Regions from separate parts of the Homo sapiens genome. Here region 2 is linked to region 1. Evidence: fine-mapped expression QTL. Tissue or cell type: whole blood. Region 1 holds a variant in brackets; the other region holds the start of a gene. All regions are shown on one strand. Distances are from middle to middle.

Evidence for each region. PIP is the estimated chance that this variant, and not a neighbour inherited with it, causes the effect.
Region 2: it holds the start of MAN1A1, and the variant in region 1 is fine-mapped to the expression of MAN1A1 in whole blood (TOPMed, PIP above 0.99).

Annotation. Positions count from the first base shown.
Region 1 is chr6:119,400,180-119,405,698 of GRCh38, reverse strand. No RefSeq gene overlaps it. Among named protein-coding and RNA genes, the nearest start is that of MAN1A1, 53 kb to the right of the region's middle. The variant C/T (reference allele first, on the strand shown) is at 2,739.
Region 2 is chr6:119,347,624-119,352,623 of GRCh38, reverse strand. MAN1A1 (mannosidase alpha class 1A member 1) reads left to right here and starts at 2,863. Exons shown (of 13, transcript NM_005907.4): 1 at 2,863-3,082; 2 at 3,337-4,161. The coding sequence starts at 3,559. RefSeq lists silencers at 2,303-2,942, 3,453-3,652, 3,713-3,832 and an enhancer at 4,043-4,392.

The sequences.
Region 1 (5,519 bases):
TGGGTTGGTTCCAAGTCTTTGCTATTGTGAATAGAACTGCAATAAACATACCTGTGCATGTGTCTTTATAGCAGCATGATTTATAATCCTTTGGGTATATACCCAGTAATGGAATGGCTGGGTAAAATGGTATTACTAGTTCTAGATCCCTGAGGAATTGCCACACTGACTTCCACCATGGTTGAACTCGTTTACAGTCCCACCACCAGTGTAAAAGTGTTCCTATTTCTCCACATCCTCTCCAGCACCTGTTGTTTCCTGAATTTTTAATGATTGCCATTCTAACTGGTGTGAGATGGTATCTCATTGTGGTTTTGATTTGCATTCTCTGATGGCCAGTGATGATGAGCATTTTTTCATGTGTGTTTTGGCTGCATAAATGTCTTCTTTTGAGAAGTGTCTGTTCATACCCTTCGCCCACTTGTTGATGGGGTTGTTTTTTTCTTGTAAATTTGTTGGAGTTCATTGTAGATTCTGTAGATGAGTAGATTGCAAAAATTTTCTCCCATTTTGTGGGTTGCCTGTTCACTCTGATGGTAGTTTCTTTTGCTGTGCAGAAGCTCCTTAGTTTAATTAGATCCCATTTGTCAATTTTGGCTTTTGTTGCCATTGCTTTTGGTGTTTGGGCAAAGACATGAAGTCCTTGCCCATGCCTGTTTCCTGAATGGTATTGCCTAGGTTTTCTTCTAGGGTTTTTATGGTTTTCAGTCTAACATGTAAGTCTTTAATCCATCTTGAATTAACTTTTGTGTAAGGTGTAAGGAAGGGATCCAGTTTCAGCATTCTACATATGGCTAGCCAGTTTTCCCAGCACCATTTATTAAATAGGGAATCCTTTCCCCATTTCTTGTTTTTGTCAGGTTTGTCAAAGATAAGATGGTTGTAGATATGCAGCATTATTACTGAGGGCTCTGTTCTGTTCCATTGATCTATATCTCTGTTTTGGTACCAGTACCATGCTGTTTTGGTTACTGTAGCCTTGTAGTATAGTTTGAAGTCAGGTAGCGTGATGCCTCCAGCTTTGTTCTTTTGGCTTAGGATTGACTTGGTGATGCAGGCTCTTTTTTGGTTCCATATGAACTTGAAAGTAGTTTTTTTCCAATTCTGTGAAGAAAGTCATTGGTAGCTTGATGGGGATGGCATTGAATCTATAAATTACCTTGGGCAGTATGGCCATTTTCACAATGTTGATTCTTCCTACCCATGAGCATGGAATGTTCTTCCATTTGTTTGTATCCTCTTTTATTTCATTGAGCAGTGGTTTGCAGTTCCCCTTGAAGAGGTCCTTCATGTCCCTTGTAAGTTGGATTCCTAGGTATTTTATTCTCTTTGAAGCAATTGTGAATGGGAGTTCACTCATGATTTGGCTCTCTGTTTGTCTGTTGTTGGTGTATAAGAATGCTTGTGATTTTTGCACATTGATTTTGTATCCTGAGACTTTGCTGAAGTTGCCTATCAGCTTAAGGAGATTTTGGGCTGAGACGATGGGGTTTTCTAAATATACAAACATGTCATCTGCAAACAGGGACAATTTGCCTTCCTCTTTTCCTAATTGAATACCCTTTATTTCCTTCTCCTGCCTGATTGCCCCAGCCAGAACTTCCAACACTGTGTTGAATAGGAGTGGTGAGAGAGGGCATCCCTGTCTTGTGCCAGTTTTCAAAGGGAATGCTTCCAGTTTTTGCTCATTCAATATGATATTGGCTGTGGGTTTGTCATAGATAGCTCTTATTATTTTGAGATATGTCCCATCAGTACCTAATTTATTGAGAGTTTTTAGCATGAAGGTTTGTTGAATTTTGTCAAAGGCCTTTTCTGCATCTAATGAGATAATCATATGGTTTTTGTAGTTGGTTCAGTTTATATGCTGGATCATGTTTATTGATTTGCATATGTTGAACCAGCCTTGCATCCCAGGGATGAAGCCCACTTGATCATGGTGGATAAGTTTTTGATGTGCTGCTGGATTCGGTTTGCCAGTATTTTATTGAGGATTTTTGCACTGATGTTCGTCAGGGGTATTGGTCTAAAATTCTCTTTTTTGGTTGTGTCTCTGCCAGGCTTTGGTATCAGGATGATGCTGGCCTCATAAAATGAGTTAGGGAGGATTCCCTCTTTTTCTGTTGATTGGAATAGTTTCAGAAGGAATCGTACCAGCTCCTCCTTGTACCTCTGGTAGAATTCGGCTGTGAATCCATCTGGTCCTGGACTTTTTTTGGTTGGTAAGCTATTAATTATTGCCTCAATTTCAGAGCCTGTTATTGGTCTATTCAGAGATTCAGCTTCTTCCTGGTTTAGTCTTGGGAGGGTGTATGTGTCGAGGAATTTATCCCTTTCTTCTAGATTTTCTAGTTTCTTTGCGTATAGGTGTTTATAGTATTCTCTGATGGTAGTTTGTACTTCTTGGAGATCGGTGGTGATATCTCCTTTATCATTTTTTATTGTGTCTATTTGATTCTTCTCCCTTAATTTTTCTTTATTAGGCTTGCTAGCAGTCTATCAATTTTGTTGATCTTTTCAAAAAACCAGCTCCTGGATTCATTGATTTTTTCGAAGGGTTTTTTGTGTCTCTATTTCCTTCAGTTCTGCTCTGATCTTAAGTTATTTCTTGCCTTCTGCTAGCTTTTGCATGTGTTTGCTCTTGCTTTTCTAGTTCTTTTAATTATGATGTTAGGGTGTCAATTTTAGAACTTTCCTGCTTTCTCTTGTGGGCATTTAGTGCTATAAATTTCCCTCTA[C/T]ACACTGCTTTGAATGTGTCCCAGAGATTCTGGTATGTTGTGTCTTTGTTCTTGTTGGTTTCAAAGAACATCTTTATTTCTGCCTTCATTTCATTATGTACCCAGTAGTCATTCAGGAGCAGGTTGTTCAGTTTCCAGGCAGTTGAGCGGTTTTGAGTGAGTTTCTTAATCCTGAGTTCTACTTTGGTCTGAGAGACAGTTTGTTATAGTTTCTGTTCTTTTATATTTGCTGAGGAGTGCTTTACTTCCAACTATGTGATCAATTTTGGAATAAGTGCAGTGTGGTGCTGAGAAGAATGTATATTCTGTTGATTTGGAGTGGAGAGTTCTGTATATGTCTATTAGGTCCACTTGTTGCAGAGCTGAGTCCAATTCCTGGATATCCTTGTTAACTTTCCGTCTCATTGATCTGTCTAATGTTGACAGTGGGGTGTTAAACTCTCCCATTATTATTGTGTGGGAGTCTAAGTCTCTTTGTAGTTCTCTAAGGACTTTCTTTATGAATCTGGGTGCTCCTGTATTGGGTGCATATATATTTAGGATAGTTAGCTCTTCTTGTTGAATTGATCCCTTTACCATTATGTAATGGCCTTCTTTGTCTCTTTTGATCTTTGTTGGTTCAAAGTCTGTTTTATCAGAGACTAGGATTGCAACCCCTGCCTTTTTTTGTTTTCCATTTGCTTGGCAGATCTTCCTCCATCCCTTTATTTTGAGCCTATGTGTGTCTCTGCACATGAGATGGGTCTCCTGAATACAGCACACTGATGGGTCTTGACTCTTTATCCAATTTGCCAGTCTGTGTCTTTTAATTGGAGCATTTAGCCCATTTACATTTAAGGTTAATATTGTTATGTGTGAATTTGATCCTGTCATTATGATGTTAGCTGGTTATTTTGCTCGTTAGTTGATGCAGTTTCTTCCTAGTCTCAATGGTCTTTACAATTAGGCATGTTTTTGCAGTGGCTAGTACCAGTTGTTCCTTTCCATGTTTAGTGCTTCCTTCAGGAGCTCTTTTAGGGCAGGCCTGGTGGTGACAAAATCTCCCAGCATTTGCTTGTCTGTAAAGGATTTTATTTCTCCTTCACTTATGAAGCTTAGTTTGGCTGGATATGAAATTCTGGGTTGAAAATTCTTTTCTTTAAGAATGTTAAATATTGGCCCCCACTCTCTTCTGGCTTGTAGAGTTTCTGCCGAGAGATCCGCTGTTGGTCTGATGGGCTTCCCTTTGTGGGTAACCTGACCTTTCTCTCTGATTGCCTGTAACATTTTTTCCTTCATTTCAACTTTGGTGTATCTGACAATTATGTGTCTTGGAGTTGCTCTTCTCGAGGAGTATCTTTGTGGCATTCTCTGTATTTCCCGAATTTGAATGTTGGCCTGCCTTGCTAGATTGGGGAAGTTCTCCTGGATAATATTCTGCAGAGTGTTTTCCAACTTGGTTCCATTCTCCCCATCACTTTCAGGTACACCAATCAGACGTAGATTTGGTCTTTTCACATAGTCCCATATTTCTTGGAGGCTTTGTTTGCTTCTTTTTATTCTTTTTTCTCTAAACTTCTCTTCTTGCTTCATTTCATTCATTTGATCTTCCATCACTGATACTCTTTCTTCCAATTGATCAAATCGGCTACTGAGGCTCGTGCATTTGTCACATAGTTCTCGTGCCTTGGTTTTCAGCTCCATCAGGTCCTTTAAGGACTTCTCTGCATTGGTTATTCTAGTTAGCCATTCATCTAAATTTTTTCCAAGGTTTTTAACTTCTTTGCCATGGGTTCAGACTTCCTCCTTTAGCTCGGAGTAGTTTGATCTTCTGAAGCCTTTTTCTCTCAACTCGTCAAAGTCATTCTCCATCCAACTTTGTTCTGTTGCTAGTGAGGAGCTGCGTTTCTTTGGAGGAAGAGAGGCACTCTGATTTTCAGTTTCCAGTTTTTCTCCTCTGTTTTTTCCCCATCTTTGTGGTTTTATCTACCTGTGGTCTTTGATGATGGTGACGTACAGATGGGGTTTTGGTGTGGATGTCCTTTCTGTTTGTTAGTTTTCCTTCTAACAGTCAGGACCCTCAGCTACAGGTCTGTTGGAGTTTGCTGGAGGTCTACTCCAGACCCTGTTGGCCTGGGTATCAGCAGCGGAGGCTGCAGAACAGCGGATATTAGTGAACAGCAAATGTTGCTGTCTGATCATTCCTCTGGAAGTTTTGCCTCAGAGGAGGACCCGGCAGTGTGATGTGTCAGTCTGCCCCTACTGGGGGGTGCCTCCCAGTTAGGCTATTCGGGGGTCAGGGACCCACTTGAGGAGGCTGTCTGTCCGTTCTCAGATCTCCAGCTGCCTGCTGGGAGAACCACTACTCTCTTCAAAGCTGTCAGACAGGGACATTTAAGTCTGCAGAGGATTCTGCTGCCTTTTGTTTGGCAATGCCCTGCCCCCAGAGGTGGAGTCTACAGAGGCAGGCAGGCCTCCTTGAGCTGCGGTGAGCTCCACCCAGTTCGAGCTCCCCGGCTGCTTTGTTTACCTACTCAAGCCTTGGCAATGGCGGGCGCCCCTCCCCCAGCCTCGCTGCCGCCTTGCAGTTTGATCTCAGACTGCTGTGCTAGCAATGAGCGAGGCTCCATGGGCGTAGGACCCTCCGAGCCATGCACGGGATATAATCTCCTGGTGTGCCGTTTGCTAAGACCATTGGAAAAGCGCAGTATTAGGGTGGGAGTGACCCAATTTTCCAGGTGCCATCTGTCACCCCTTTCTTTGACTAGGAAAGGGAATTCCCTGACCCCTTGTGCTTCCCAG
Region 2 (5,000 bases), 53 kb after region 1:
TTTCTTTTGAAAGTAGAAAAATCTAAGCAACAACATTTATTTGGGGATTTCTTTGTAGTGTTTTGTGGTATCACTGATGATCAGGTTTTTAAAAAATTACTTGATTCAAAGATATAATCTTGAAACACAAAAATTTACAAATTATCAAAGAAATACACAAAAACATTAAGTATTGAAAAAGGAAAATGTAAGAATTAAGTTTGCAAGCAAACCTGCAAAAATTACAAGAGAGTTATACTTCAAAAGGACTGGCTGGCCAAATAAAAAAACATAGCAAGTATTTTTTTAAAAATCCCACAAAATTACTAAGGTTCTTAGGTTTACATTAGACCATCCATAATGAGAAACAGCAATTTCAGCACTATCATTGCATTCATAAAGATGGTGACATTACCTTCAGGTAGATGTGGCTAGGGAGTCTTGACTTAGGGGACAAAGTCAAGGTTTCATTACTTAAAAGACAAGAACCAATCACCTTTATTTTTATCTCAGGGTACAAAGTACTTTTTTCAATGGTAGAATGTCAAGTGCTTTGTAGTACTGAAATCAGAGGAAAGTGTCCGATTTTGCTTCTACAAAATGCACAATTTTACTTGTTGACTATTTTCTACTCCTCCCTTACCATGAGCACACAGGGCTTCATGTGATTATTTTAAAGAGGATGCATAATTCGATTGCTATGCCTCTTCAGATACCTTCTTTGTGAATTTTTCAAATTTGCTCTGGCCCAAATATTGGTGTTCCTATATAGTTCTTATCCCACCTAATGTACACAGACACCCTTTAATATGTACCTATAATCAACCACCCATGTTAACTTCTTGTTTAACATATTATCAAAGCCAGGCTGCAAGTATAACCCTGTCATTTAAGAAATACGGAAAATAAGAAAAAAATCTTAAAATAAGCTTCATGATGAACTTAAAAAGAATAGTTACTTTAAAAGATGTAGAAACAACATAGATAAATTTAAAGTTTTTAGGGGAAAAAATCCTTAAACCCACGTACTAAATTTTTAATATTTCCACTACAGAAGTTAAATGCCCAAACTGATTTGGTATCAAAATTAAAGTGTCAGAAATAGAATTAAGTTATAACTTTTATTTATCACCATTTTAACATATACTTAAAAGTGGAATTTATTGTTTTGCTGGAATACTTAATAACATTAATTTGAAATAAAGCTTCTAAATATTTCCGGGGCTATAATTCCATTCTTACAACATAATTTTTAAAATAATAAATCATTCCAAAAAAGGATGATCATAAAGAGATTAGCGTTTGGGGTAGTTAACCCAGTTCCTATTTATCTATCCATTCAAGAGGTAACTCAGTTTTAAGGATGTTGTTAGAAACATTATTTCACAGTGATTCAAACCTTTCAGCCTATGCACAACCTACAAATGCATAATCGTTTGAAATAAAAATTGCCTTTCCATCATTAAAGAAAAATCATCTTTGTTTTCTTTTTCAGTCCTTCTGAACTTATTACCCTGCTTGGATATGCTGCACTCTTCTGGACATAGAATTTCATAGCAGGTATCAAAATAACCAAGCCATAAAGCCAGCTTTATCAAACAATAATTTCCTATTAACAAGAACTTTGAGTGTATTACTCATTTTACACAAAACAAGTAGACGACAAATAATGATGGTTAAAATTAATAATTAAATGATTAAATGAAAACTAGTAAGGATTTCTGATTACTTTTCTACTTTCTCATACAGCTTAACACCTGGAAACAACTGTACTGGAGCCACCTTCCCGAAAGGTGCCAGCTGTTTCCTTTGTCTTAAGCACAAACAGAACTAATGTCACATTTCCAGAGAAGGGTAAGGATGAAATAAGGCGACTACAAACCAGCTTTCAGAAATGCGAAGTCAGTCAACGTTTTCCTCTCTGATAACCCCTTATTTGTGGAGCAACAGGAGAATTACAACACATTTTGGAAAATAATTTCTATTGGACCAACTCCTCACTTCGCTGGAAGTAGTCGGATCCAAGACTTAATTTCAACACAGTGTTCGACTTATTGCTTGAAGCTACCGCAGCATAAAACTCGTCTTCGAATGGAAAATTTGACCAACTTCTATGAGGTAAATGAATAGTGAAAGTACGGGTGGGCGGGAGAGACATACAAGTTTTTTCGGTTTTTTGTTTTTTGGGGGAAGAAAGGGCGCATACGAAAAAAGTCCTAAGCAAGCACAGAACTGTGTCTCTTAGGATGTAAAAGGATGTTATACCAGAGAGCTCAAAAGCTCCCAGGGTCACGGCTCCCCTAACCGAGGGACTTGGGGTTTCACTGCTACCAGGCACCCGGGGAACCCCGGCCTTGGATAAAAAGAGGGTAACTGGAGTAAAGCCGTGCTTCTGAACGACCCAGCGCCCAGGACCCCCTGCCAGACCCCGCCTTTCCCGGGACCCCCTCGGGAGCGCCCCCGACCGCCCCGCACGGGTCGGAGGAGGAGGCAGAGAGGTCCCGCGCGGACCCAGGCGCCTCCCGGGCCAGTCGAGGATCAACCACCCCGGGGACCCCTGCCGAGGCCAGCGCAGGATAAACTCCCCGACCCCGAACTCTGCCTGCCGCTTCTCGGCGCTGGGCCTCAGCCACGGGTTCGACCGTCCTCCTCACCGCGGCTCCCGCCTACCTCGCGCCTCCCGGCCCCGCGACCTCCCCGCCGCCGGCCGGGCCCCGCCGAGGCTGCGCTTCCCGTAAACTCCCCGCCCCGCGCATCCCCCTCCTCGCCTCGGCCCCGCCCCCGCGGGACCCTGGGCGGCGCGTGATTGGCCCGGCCGCGCCGTCACTCTCCGGCCGCGTCGCCTCCCTCGCTTTCCACCGCCCCAAGACCGGCAGTGAGATTAGTGCTCGCGGGGCCGCGGCGGAGTGTACCGTGCTGCTCTACTCGCTGCCATTCGCCCGCAGGTCGGCGCGCTCGCCCACCTGAGCCGCGCCGGGGCTGCGGGACCGTGGGACAGCGCGCTCAGCCCAGCCTAGGAAAGAGGCAGCAGTCTCAGCGCGGAGATGGGGAGCGGGCGAAGTTGACGAGTCTCCCGCCCACGCTGCGCCCCTCCTGCCCAGAGGTGCGCTGCCCCTCCCCGAGGTGCTCGCGCGCTGCCCTGACCCCTTCCTGCGCGGGACACCCCTCCCCTACCCACGGGACCTGATAACTTCACCCCAAGTCCAGAGAGTGGGCTGCGAGGGCGGTGCCCGGACTGGACAGGACTCTGCTTAAGGGGAGCGGTCCTGGAGGCTCGCCAGGAGTCGGAGGGCGGAGACCCGCTGGAAACTTTATCATCGCCGTAATTACTACGTTTTACTGTTTCTCTCCCCGCAGGGGCTGCAGCCAGCGGTCTGTCGCGCGTGCCTGTGTGCCCGAGGAGCCGCCCCGGGGAGAAGACCCGGCGCGGAGTTGTTCCCCCAGGGAGGATCCGCAGCCCAGCCGAGGGGGTCGGGCGGCCTGGCTACGCAGGACCCAGCCCCGCAGCCGCGGACTCCCAGCGGCGGCGAAGTTTGGCTGCTGAGCGGCGCGGCGCCGGACCACTGGACAGCGGGAGCGATGCCCGTGGGGGGCCTGTTGCCGCTCTTCAGCAGCCCCGCGGGCGGCGTCCTGGGCGGGGGGCTCGGCGGCGGCGGTGGCAGGAAGGGGTCGGGCCCCGCCGCCCTCCGCCTGACGGAGAAGTTCGTGCTGCTGCTGGTATTCAGCGCCTTCATCACGCTCTGCTTCGGGGCGATCTTCTTCCTGCCAGACTCCTCCAAGCTGCTCAGCGGGGTCCTGTTCCACTCCAGCCCCGCCTTGCAGCCGGCCGCCGACCACAAGCCCGGGCCCGGGGCGCGCGCCGAGGACGCGGCCGAGGGGCGAGCCCGGCGCCGCGAGGAGGGGGCACCCGGGGACCCGGAGGCCGCCCTGGAGGACAACTTGGCCAGGATCCGCGAAAACCACGAGCGGGCTCTCAGGGAAGCCAAGGAGACCCTGCAGAAGCTGCCCGAGGAGATCCAAAGAGACATCCTACTGGAGAAGAAGAAGGTGGCCCAGGACCAGCTGCGTGACAAGGCGCCGTTCAGAGGCCTGCCCCCGGTGGACTTCGTGCCCCCAATCGGGGTGGAGAGCCGGGAGCCCGCCGACGCCGCCATCCGCGAGAAAAGGGCAAAGATCAAAGAGGTGAGTGGGCCGCGCCAGAAATCCCTCCCGACCGGCCGTGTTTTTCAGGGAGAAACGGCAAGCCTTTGAAACTCTGAAGACTGCAACAATGCAATGTATGGGGAGATGGAGGTTTGCCCCTTCCACCAGGTGCTGTGTCAAAAGCTCTTTCTTTTCCTGTTTCCAATATAGTAGTAGATGTGTCCAGTAAGATCTAAGGTCAAATCTCGTTGCTTTTAATTTGCATGCTCTTGCTCTGGTGACCACAAGCCACACGAGGTGGGTATAAATACATGGGCAGGTAATACGCAAACCTCATTCTCTGGCCGCTACACGGTTAATCGCCCCACCAGTAACAGCGACGGCACTGATCAGCCCCCTGGTAAGGATTGGGGACGTGGCTTTAAAGTGAGTCTTCACGCGTGGTAAAGCTAGCCAGCATACCCCGGGTTCAGCTGTGTGGCCCTTGTCTGCCAGGTGGCATTCTGTGTGTACTTTCAGACTATAAAGGTGAAACCTGAGAACTTCCCATCATCGAGGGATACTATTGTTTACTTTTTTAAAAAATGAAAATATAAAAAGCCAGTCGGCTGCCTCTTGTATTTCTAATGCACAGCCAGAAATAGGGTATTCCATGTGATGCAACAGGTTTGCCTCCACAGCAGCACAATGGTGACAAAGTTAATCCAGGATAAACATGGACTTTGATACATCTTTCCTAATTTCCTTCTCGTAATTTTCAGTTAGAACTTGAAACATGTGATTAGGTCAGGACCAGCTTAAAGCTGAAGGGGGCCGTAAAAAGTCCTTTCAGGCTGTCATTTTCAAGATGAAGATCGAAGGGCCCAGAGCTCTAGAAC